Linked DNA regions of Homo sapiens. The protein of the gene in region 2 purifies or fractionates together with the protein of the main gene of each other region. This does not show direct contact. Each region holds a gene or a part of one and is shown on either strand. Other genes may lie near its edges.

Region 1 (3,651 bases), on a different chromosome or scaffold from region 2:
GAGGTGGGAGGATTGCTTGAGCTGGGGAGGTAGAGGCTGCAGTGAGCCGTGATTGCCCCACCGCGTTCCAGCCTGGGCAACAGAGTGAGACTGTCTCAAGAAAAAGAGATGAAGGAAGTGAGAAGGTGCTGATTGATACTTACCTCACACTGAGCCTTTTTTCCCCCCACAGACTTATCACTGAACCATTTCACTGGGAAAGTAAAAGGACCACATATTTCTTGGCCGGGCATGGTGGCTCACGCCTGTAATCCCAGCACTTTAGGAGGCTAAGGTGGGCGGATCATGAGGTCAGGAGATCGAGACCATCCTGGCTAACACGGTGAAACCCCATCTCTACTAAAAATACAAAAAATTAGCCGGGCGTGGCGGCAGCCACCTGTAGTCCCAACTACTCAGGAGGCCGAGGCAGGAGAATGGCGTGAACCCGGGAGGCAGAGCTTGCAGTGAGCTGAGATGGTGCCACTGCACTCCAGCCTGGGCGACAGAGTGAGCCTCCGTCTCAAAAAAAAAAAAAAAAAAAAAAGAAGGACTACATATTTCTCAATGAAAATACAGTGTACAATGTTTTCCATGCAGGTGTAAATACTAACTCATGTTCTGTTTCAGGGTGGGAGATGGAATAACCTGTAGAAAGAATCTTTAGATTTGTTTAAATTATACACAAATGATAAGAGATCTTTCTGAAAGTATTGACTTTTTGGCGGGGGAGGGAAGGGGCCTGATAGAACAACCAACAATTGTACACTTTAAGTTTACATTTAGAGTTCACATTAAAAGTTCATTTACAAGGCATCTGTTTGAAATTCGTGAGGATGAGCTGGGCTGGGTGGCTCATGGCTGTAATCCCAGCCCTTGGGTGGCTGAGGTGGACAGGTCACCTGAGGTCAGGAGTTCAAGACCAGTCTGGCCAACATGGTGAAACCCCGTCTCTACTAAAAATACAAAAATTAGCTGGGTGTGGTGGTGGGCGCCTGTAATCCCAGCTACTGGGAAGGCTGAGGCAGGAGAATTGCTTGAACCCAGGAGGCAGAGGGTGCAGTGAGCTGAGATCTCACCATTGCACTCCAGCCTGGGCAACAGAGCGAGACTCCGTCTCAAAAAAAAAAAAGAATAAATCACAAGAAATGGTTCCTTCACTGTTATACTTTAACATGATACAGCTTTTTAATGTTTTATTTTTTGAGAGAGAGTCTCACTGTGTTGCCCAGGCTGGAGTGCAGTGGTGTGATCATAAATTCTTGGGCTCAAGTGATGCTCCCGCTTCAGCATCCTAAGTAGCTGGGACTACAGGCTTGTGCCACCTCACCTGGCTAATTTTTTTTATTTTTGGTAGAAATAGAATCTGTTTGCCCAGGCTGGTCTTGAACACTGGGCCTCAGGCAGTCTTTGTGCCTCAGCCTCCCAAAGTGCTGGATTAATGGTGTGAGCCACAGCACCTGGCCAATAGCTTTATTGAGATTATAATTCAACTATCATGATTTATTCATTTAAAGTGTACAGTTCAGTATTTTTTAGTATATTCACAGAGTTGTGCAGCTGTCACCACCATATAACCTTAGAACATTTCATCATCACCAAAAGAAACCCTATACTCATTAGCAGTCCCTCATATCCCCTGCTTCTACCTAGGTAACCACTAATCTACTTTGTGGCCTATAGATTTGCTTATTCTGGACATTTCATATACATGAAATCATAAAATACCTGATCTTTTATGATTGGCTTTTACTTAGCATAATATAAATTTTTTTTTTTTTTTAATTTGTAGAGACAGGGTCCTGTTATGTTGCCCAGGCTGATCTTGAATTCCTGGGCTCAAGTGATCCTCCTGCCTTGGCCTCTCAGAGTGCTGGCATTATAGGTGTGAGCCACTGCACCCAGCCATTAGCATAATATTTTAGCTGGGCACAGTGGCATGCTCCTGTAGTCCCAGCTACTAGGGTGACTGAGGCAGGAGGATCACTTGAGTCCAGGAGTTTGAGGCTGTAGTGAGCTATGATGGCATCACTGTACTTCAGCCTGAGTGACAGAGGTAGACCCTGTCTCTAAATATTTTAAGGTTCATTAAAATAATATATTTTCAATAAAATAATATTTCAATAAAATAATATTTTAAGGTTCATTCATGTTATAGCATATGTCAGTGTATGATTCCTTTTTCTGGCTGAATAATATTCCTTTGTATGGATATACCAGGTGTTTAACATTTTGAGGAACTGCTGTACAGTTTTCCAAAGCAGCTGCACCATTTTATATTCCCACTAGCAAAGTATGAGGGTTCTAATTTCTCCACATCCTTGTTTTTACCTACCTTTTTTTATTATAGTCATCCTAGTGAGTGTGAGGTGGTATCTATGGTTTCAGTTTGCACTTTCCTAATGACTAACGGTGTTGAGCCTCTTTCATGTGTTTCTTGACTGTTTCCGTATCTTTTGGAGAAAAGTGGGTTCAGATCCTTTGCCCATTTTTTAATTGGATTATTAGTTGTAAGAGTTCTTCATATATTCTGGATATAGGTCCCTTATGAGATACATGATTTGCAAACATAACCCCGCTTCTGTGGATTGTCTTTTTACTTTCTTGACAGTATCATGTGCAACAGAAAGTTTTTGATGCTGTCCGATTTCTCTGTTTTCTTTTGTCACTTGTACTTGTTATAGTATCTAAGAAACCACAAAGGCCATGAAGATTTATTTCTATGTTTTCTTATCAGAGTTTTATAATTTTCTTATAAATTTGGGTCTGTGATCTGTTTTGAGTTCATTTTTGTGTATGGTGTAAGGTAGGGGTCTGAATCCATTCTTTTGCCTGTTGATAACAAGTCGGTCTAGCACCATTTGTTGAAAGGACTGTTCTTTCCCTGATTATATTGGTAGCCTGTAGTATTGGTTTTTATATACTATTACAATTTTGGGAAAATTCAGTACAGAATTACTTGGAGCATGTTGATTTGTCTGAGAAAACTGTGAATACCAGTTTCATGATTTTAGGGTAACTACAAAATGTATATTATATTCTATCCTTTGTCAGATGTGTTAATTTAATCGTTTTATATAAGGTAAGAATGCTGTACCTCTGTCTAAACACAGAAATAACATGTATTTTAATATAAAGAATGTGGAACTTCTAAACTTTGAGGCTAATTTTTCCTGCATAAATTCTCAAATTATTGTGACATGATATTTCATAACTTTACTAGTAGAATCCTTCCCTGTGTTATTAAATATCCACTAAAGTCTCTAGTAAAGGGAATATGATTTACAGAACAAATTTAATGTGTTAGTTTAATTGGTGTTAATTTAATTATAATTGGTGAACTATTACATACTTTTCTTAGTTCCTGTTTTTTTGTTTTTTCTTTACAGCAAAGTATCCAGAGATAAAGTCCTTGATGAAACCTGATCCCAATTTGATATGGATTATAATTATGATGGTTCTCACCCAGTTGGGTGCATTTTACATAGTAAAAGACTTGGACTGGAAATGGGTCATATTTGGGGCCTATGCGTTTGGCAGTTGCATTAACCACTCAATGACTCTGGCTATTCATGAGATTGCCCACAATGCTGCCTTTGGCAACTGCAAAGCAATGTGGAATCGCTGGTTTGGAATGTTTGCTAATCTTCCTATTGGGATTCCATATTCAAT
Region 2 (3,651 bases):
TATCCATGTTATTTTTATTTTTATTTTATTTTACTTTGAGACATAGTCTCACTCTGTGCCCAGGCTGGAGTGCAGTGGTACCATTGTAGGTTACTGCAGCCTTGACCTCCTGGGCTCAAGGATCCTCCCAGCCTCCCAAGTAGCTGGGACTATAAGCAGGTGCCACCATGCCCAGCTAATTTTTGTATTATTTGTAGAGATGAAGTCTCGCTATGTTGCCCAGGCTGGTCTCAAGCTCCCGACCTCAAGCAATCCTCCCTCCTCAGCCTCCCGATTACTTAGCGTTTTTGTTCTTAGTGCTGGTTTTTAGTTGTTGCTTTTGTTTTTGTTTGTTTGTTTCTTTGCTTGAGACAGAGTCTTGCTCTGTTGCCCAAGCTGGAGGGTAGTGGCACTATCATGGCTCACTGCAGCCTCAACCTCTTAGGCTCAAGCAATTGTCCTACCTCAGCCTCCCAAGTAACTGGGACTACAGATGCATGCCACCATGCCCAGCTAATTTTTGTATTTTTTGTAGAGATGAGGTTTCACCCTGTTCCCCAGGCTGATCTCAAACTCTTGGGCTCAAGTGATCCTCCTGCCTTAGCCTCCCAAAATGCTGGGATTACAGGCGTGAGCCACTGCACCCAGCTTGCAGTATTTTTAAAAAATGGTTTCATAACATCCCATAGTAAGACTCTACGAGCATTTATGTAACCAATCCCCTGGAGATGGGCATTTTAGCTATTTGCATTTTCCCTCAGATTTATCATAGCATGCAGTGATCACCTTTACACATACACCTTGGCCTAATTGTGTAATTATTCTCTTAACATGAAGTTCCTAGAAGGAGGATTACTGAGTCAAAGGGCACTCGCCCTTGCAGTATTGACAGAGGGTGCCAGGCTACTCAGAATGCACGAGAAGGCCTCTTTCCCCATCCCTCCCCCAGACTGGGTTTGAAGTGTAGGCATCTGGACAGAGTTAGTGGATGATAAAGAAAGAAGTTGGAACCTCATGGTCTTGATCCTTTCAGAAAAGGAGGGGGTGAGCTCATCTTTGGGGAATGAGGTGGGCTGACCTGAGGAGGAACCCAGGAATGGGAAGTGAGGATCCAGATGGCAGGACTTGGCTGAAGCCAAATGCATGCCCCCCTCTGACACTCTCCTGCAGCTCCAGGCTTCTCTAGTGCAATTCGAAGAAAGCAGGCTGAGGATGGAAGGGACCATGGCCAGGAGAGAGAACTACAGGCTCCATGGGGCAGAACTCAACCCTTGGGGACTGGGCTGGGCTTGGAGGTCAGGGCGAATGAGAACTTGGAGGAAGGAGAGCGAGGAAAGGCTGAGTGCATTGGGGATGAAGAAGGCAAGGGGCTTGAGATCAAGCAGATGGAACAGCAATAAGCCTTAAGCTCCAGAGGGCAGGCAGGATGTGTAGAGATGAGACAGTAAATCCCATGTCCAGAGCCCTGAGTTTCAACAGAAAAGCTGCTTCCATTCAAGTTGATGGCAGGAGACAGAATGAAGAATTCATCCAATCCAGGTGATGTCATTGTCCAGAACAGTGTTCCCTAAAGTCAGAGTCCCTCTGCCTCTGAACATAGGTCCCAGAATTAAAAGATACATTTATTTTTCAAGATCTGCAGGAAGTTCCATGACCAAATAAGTCTGAGAAACGTGGAGTTAAACACAGATTTAAATGGGCTTATTATTTTTTTTGGCAGGACTTTTCAAAATGCTTACTATGTGAATGTGAATCTCTAAGATGGCGATAGAGTATGCCATGTTTTCCACACTTACTTGATCAAATAATCCTTTTTCACAAAGAATAATTTGGGACTAGTGTCCCATAGGATATGTTTTGAAACACTGATTTCTTGTAAGTTGGAAATTGGTCCTGGGAGTGATGGGGGTTGGGAGATGGCAATAAATGGCAGCATTAATTGGAATAGGATAGAAAAATAATCCTAATAAAAGTGGCTGCTACTACTATTTATTAAGCATTTACGATGTACCAGGTACTTTTCATATACGTCTCATTGGATTTTCACAGCAGCTCATTGAAGCGGACGATCTCCCCACCATTTACGCATAAGGAACATGAAACTCAGAGGAGGGAAGTGGGGTGCCCATGCGAGACAGGGTAGGATTTGCAGGATCAGGGGTGACAACGGGGATCAAGAGAACTGGTGATTCCTGGCCAGGCATGGTGGCTCATGCCAGTAATCCCAGCACTTTGGGAGACCCAGGGAGGAGGATCACTTCAGGCCAGGAATTTGAGACCAGCCTGGGCAACATAGTGAGATCTTGTCTCTACAAAAAATAAGCAAGATTAGCTGGGTGTGATGGCACACACCTGTAGCCTCAGCTACTTAGGAGGCTGAGGTGGGAGGATCGTTTGAACCCGGGAGGTCTAGGCGGCACTGAGCCATGATCGCACCACAGCACTCCAGCCTGGCCAATAGAGCAAGACCTTGTCTATAAAAAGAAACAAAAAAAGAAAAGAAAAGAAAGCCAGTGATTCCCACCCCTCCCATCCCTCTGAATTCATGGGGTTCAGGGGAGTCGGGGGGGTTGGTGCTGTGGACAGAGAGGAGATCAGTGTGTAAGTAATGGGGGGAGTCTGTTGCATTGAGTGAGTAGCCTAGGTTCTTGTCTCAACTAGAGGCAGCACCAGCCTGCGAGCAGGTATTTAGAAATGGGTGGGCATTCGGGGTTGTCACAATGACCAGGGATTGCTATTGGCCTTTAGCGGGCAAGGCCAGGATGCTGAATGTCTGTGCAGAGTGGGCCGTGCTCATCTAATGAAGAATTGCACCACCTGGAATAGGGTCCAAGTTAGAAAAGTTGAGGGCAAGAAAGTTGTTTAGGATAAAGGGGATTTAGGATAAAGCAGGGATTTACCCACAACCTCTGTGGTTACCAAGAACAGGGTGGGAGGCAGCCAAAGGGATTCAGGTGGAGGTAGCAGGAACCGGGAGGGAAGCCTGTCTCAGAGCAGCAGATGTGGCTTTAGGGATGCAGGAGCTTGAGGATGGGGACCAAAAAAGGGGCGAGTGCTGGAGGAGAGAAACTGGCAGAGCCACGGAAGCAGAAAAGGACAACTTGTTGAGCAAGAAGATTTGAAGGGAAAGGACCTGTGTCTTGAGACCTGAGCGGGCAGGCGGATTCCCAACCGATTACAGACAAACCCACAAAGGAAGCCTGTGGAGAGGGGGTAGTGGCGGAAGGGCTCTAATGAAAACAATTTTGCAACCTTACTTATAGCGTTCTCCAACCTTAAACTAATAGCTATTCTGCACTTTAAATATAGCATTGGCTCCAGAGAAGACTCTGAAATCTTTATTTTTACCGATCCAATTGGCTGTTTTGAAAACCCACTCTGTGAACCCTGCAGAAGATAATTATCAAAATATGTTCCTTGAAGTGCCCAAAGAAAGACCTTTTATTCAGTTCCTCGAATCTCTCCCCCTTGTTGACTCAGATGGAAGAATGCAGTCCCAGAAAGGCGAAAGAGGGAACCAAGGACACATTTTTGGTCAACCAAAAGAAAGCCGGCATTGGTGACCACAGTTGAGTTAGCAGTTGGTTAACAGGTCCGGGCTATTTTCTACCCCCAAAGGGAGAGCTGAACCAAGCTCAACCCCAGTGGAGTCAGTGGCCGTGCTTAGCAATG
Region 3 (3,651 bases), on a different chromosome or scaffold from region 2:
GTAACGTCTGGGGTCTGGCTTAAGAGCCAAAGCACTGGGGCATCTCCTGCAGGCCCTGAGGGGTCCCTCTCGTAGGCAGGGACACAGCTCACCATGGCTGTGTGCTGGCTGCCAGGACATCTCAGGTGCAGACAGCTGTGGAGCCAGCTTGATGGATGCCTATTTTACTGTCCTCTTCTTGCCTCTTTTGGGAAGCTTTATTCCCAGAATGCACTTTTCAGAAGTGGGTGGCAGTTTGGGGGTTTTTGTTTGTTTTTTGTTTGAGACAACATCCCGCTATGTTGCCCAGGCTGGAGTGCAGTGGCGCAATCATGGCTCACTGCAGCCTCCACCTCCTGGGCTCAAGCAATCCTCCCACCTCAGCCTTCTAAGTAGCTACGACTACTGGTGCGTGTCTCCATGCCCGGATAATTTTTTAGTTTTTGTAGAGACAAGGTTGCCCTATGTTGTCCAGGTCTCAAACTCTTGGGCTCAAGTGATCCTCCTGCCTCAGCCTCCCAAAGTGCTGGGATTACAGGTGTGAGCCACCATGCCCAGTCATGGTCAGCAGTTTTAATTCCGAAGATTTTTCTTTCCTTTTTTGACTCAGCTTCCTCTCACTGAAACCATAATCAGTCTCATCTCTCCATCACTAAACTTCACCACCCAAGGGTTGGTGGTCCTTGGAGAGAGACTGGGCCAGACAAGGTGATTTCTGCCTAACACTGGGAGGGGCCTTTTTTAGGCCAGACGGCACATGCAATTCCAGCCTATCATCACTATTAAATTCTAATAAAGATAAAAGTATTTCATTTCAGAAAGGGGAAGGCCTGCGTGCCTCAAACCCGTAATCTCAGCGCAGGTCAGCTTTCCACCTGCCCCTCACTGGACAGACTTATCAGGTAGCACTACCTTAATTGTGTGTTTTCTTTTTCTTTTTCTTTCTCTCAACCCTTCCTGTTTCGCTTTCCTTCCCTGGCCTTAATTTCTGGATGTTTGGAAACTACAGGACTCTGTTTGGAAACAAGATCAAGTCTGTGGCTAAGAGAGCATTCTCGGGGCTGGAAGGCCTGGAGCACCTGTGAGTATCTCACCAGCCCTGCCCTGAGGCACAGCCTGCTGAATGCGGCTGCCGGGGAGTTCTGCTAGCAATTTAATCGCATCTTTGTAAACTGAGAAACAGGCTATTTGGAAACACCAGCTGCTTCCTTCTCATTATGTCAGCTTCAGCTTTGGCCTTTATGTTGCCTATGCCAGGAACAGTTACAGAACATATGGCCAGTGGATGTGCTCCCAGTTAATTCAGTTGGTATTTGGATAAATACCCTCCCCCCTCCTGCTGCGCAGCCTAACCCCTGCACTGGCTCCTTCATGGACCCCTGGCCTCATTGCCTCTTCCACCAACGCGCTTCCTCCTGGCCAAGCCTGTTGCCTCCATTAAAGCAGCTTAACAATGCAGAGTAGGTGCTGGGCTGAACCAGTTTGGTGTGGTTGCTTCTGAGACCCTGGGAGGAAGGGAACAGAGCCACCCGAGACAGTCATGCTGTTGCCATCTGGGGAGGATGCCTCATGTATGTGATTCTTAGTTTGTTTCCTCTTTGAATCAAGTTTGACTCTAACTCTGTTGGGAAAGGTTTTGCCTTGCTGAGCAGGCCTCAGCCCAGCTTTGATGGTGCCCTAAGGCTGGCTTGGCTCCTGAGTCATTCCATGGGCTTGTGTTGCGATTTGGGAAACAACAGCCACTTATAGTAGTTAGGACACAGGTCTGGCTAGTCCCTGTGGGTCATCTGTGAAACCAGGACTGTCCTGAAAACCCCTCAGGTGTACCTAGGGTTTCTTTGCATAAGTAATGTATGTTCTGTTTCAGGAACCTTGGAGGGAATGCGATCAGATCTGTCCAGTTTGATGCCTTTGTGAAGATGAAGAATCTTAAAGAGCTGTAAGTATCTGGATTCCCTGGGTCTGATTAATGGTAGTGGAGACTTTCAGAGTAAGAAACTTCTGCAATTGCATTATGCTCACTTGTTAAAAGTTCACATGGTACATATTTTGGATTTTGTGGGCCACAGAGTCTCTGTCATGACTACTTGATTGCATCATTGCAGCAGAAAGCAGCCATAGACATTACATAAGCAGGTGGGTGTGGCTATGTGCCCATAAAGTCACATTGACAGAAGCAGGCAGTCGGGCCGCAGGCTGAAGCTTGCTAACCACTATTCTAGGCAATGTGAAATATACTCTCCTCTATAAAGTGGATAATCACCCCTTCAATTATGTCAGGGCCAAGTTTTCATCTTTTGGGCTTGCTTACGATAAAGGCCTGTGTTGAGAGGGTCTACTTCAGAGCCTGGTGGGCTGTGAGCAAGGCAGAGCTCTGGAGGGGATGGGATGCTTAGGGGTGCAGTGGTGTCTGCCCATACCATTTCCAAGCTTTCTGGGCACGGTTCACAGGTGGTGGTGCTGCCACTGTGGACTTGGACTGTGGGCTCTTGGGTGACAAGGTTGGAAAAGCTTCCCTGTATCCTACTCTGGCAGGGGAGCTAGTCTGGGTCCTCAGGTGTAACACCCAAGTTTTCCTTTCTGGTTTTTTTTTTTTTTTTTTAGCTAGACATGAATCTGATTCTACAGCCAGTAAGTTCTAGCCATGATATCAGTTCCCTGAAGGGGTAACTTTTGGTTCCTAGAAGTGCTGACAGAATGGCAGATGCCACAGGACAGTCATCTTTGTGCCCTGACCTCATCCCCATTCCCCGAGGCCACTCTTGATGAACCCTCAGTTGGGGCAGGGAGGCTGGGACTGGGGAAATGAGGTGCATTCCCCATAGCTGGGAACTGAAGCGGGCCGGGTGACACCAGACTGAGTGAGGAGGGAAGGTGGCCTGGGCACTTGCCCTGTGATGTTCAGCATGCTGTGAGCCTCAGGCCTGCTGAATAGATACCGTCCTTGCAAGGGTTGGATCTTGGAGCGGGTGTCTGTGACGGGTTCATGGAGCTCAGGGCTCTGCAGACAGCTGCTCCGTGCCCAGGGCCTTCCCTCTTCCAGCCTCAGCAGCTCTGCCTCCATCTGTCGGGTGAGACGGAACATACAGAAAGGATTCCATGGCTCTCCTTCCAGAGCAGGGGAGGAGATGATTCCAGACCACCGTGGAAGGGAAGGCTGGACTCAGAGGTGGACTCGCAGTAAAGCAAGTGGAATGAAACATTGGTTGTAGAAGACAAGCGGTGGGGCACAGGAGCATTCACTGTGGAATTCTTTCACCTTTTCTGTCTTTGAAACTTTCAGATATGATGTCAGGACTGAAAAATACCTGATTCAATTTAAACGGGAAGAAGGTATTTTGAGAGAAGGAGGGAGGAGGATAAGATTTTCCTTGGGAAGTTGGGAGGAACTGGACCCTTCCAGAAGCTTGGACCTCCAGCGTGCTTCTGCATGGTTCTGGAGGCTCAGCCTCGGTCTCCTGCCTGGGTTTCCCATCGTTGCTGCATATACCTCGCTGGAGCCGGCCCTGTGCCCAGTCCTCAGATGAGAGAAATGGTTAATTCCACTTGGTCGTCTTTTTCTCCATCAGATCAAGTCAGGTTGTACTGTGCACTTAGTCATCCTCTGGGTAAATTTCCACAAGTGATGATTAGAAACACACTTTGAGTTGGAATCGTGAAAATGCACCATGT

The links.
Region 1: the proteins of SCARA3 (region 2) and DEGS1 purify together in Homo sapiens (affinity purification with mass spectrometry; 3 studies listed by BioGRID and IntAct, with this or other methods). This does not show direct contact.
Region 3: the proteins of SCARA3 (region 2) and LRIG1 purify together in Homo sapiens (affinity purification with mass spectrometry; 3 studies listed by BioGRID and IntAct, with this or other methods). This does not show direct contact.

Annotation. Positions count from the first base shown.
Region 1 is NC_000001.11:224,186,209-224,189,859, forward strand, and holds part of DEGS1 (sphingolipid delta(4)-desaturase DES1), read left to right. Parts: intron 1-3,368; coding exon 3,369-3,651. UniProt on the Homo sapiens protein: Has sphingolipid-delta-4-desaturase activity. Converts D-erythro-sphinganine to D-erythro-sphingosine (E-sphing-4-enine). Catalyzes the equilibrium isomerization of retinols.
Region 2 is NC_000008.11:27,640,368-27,644,018, forward strand, and holds part of SCARA3 (scavenger receptor class A member 3), read left to right. Parts: intron 1-3,651. UniProt on the Homo sapiens protein: Seems to protect cells by scavenging oxidative molecules or harmful products of oxidation.
Region 3 is NC_000003.12:66,396,379-66,400,029, reverse strand, and holds part of LRIG1 (leucine-rich repeats and immunoglobulin-like domains protein 1 isoform 1 precursor), read left to right. Parts: intron 1-988; coding exon 989-1,060; intron 1,061-1,846; coding exon 1,847-1,918; intron 1,919-3,651. UniProt on the Homo sapiens protein: Acts as a feedback negative regulator of signaling by receptor tyrosine kinases, through a mechanism that involves enhancement of receptor ubiquitination and accelerated intracellular degradation.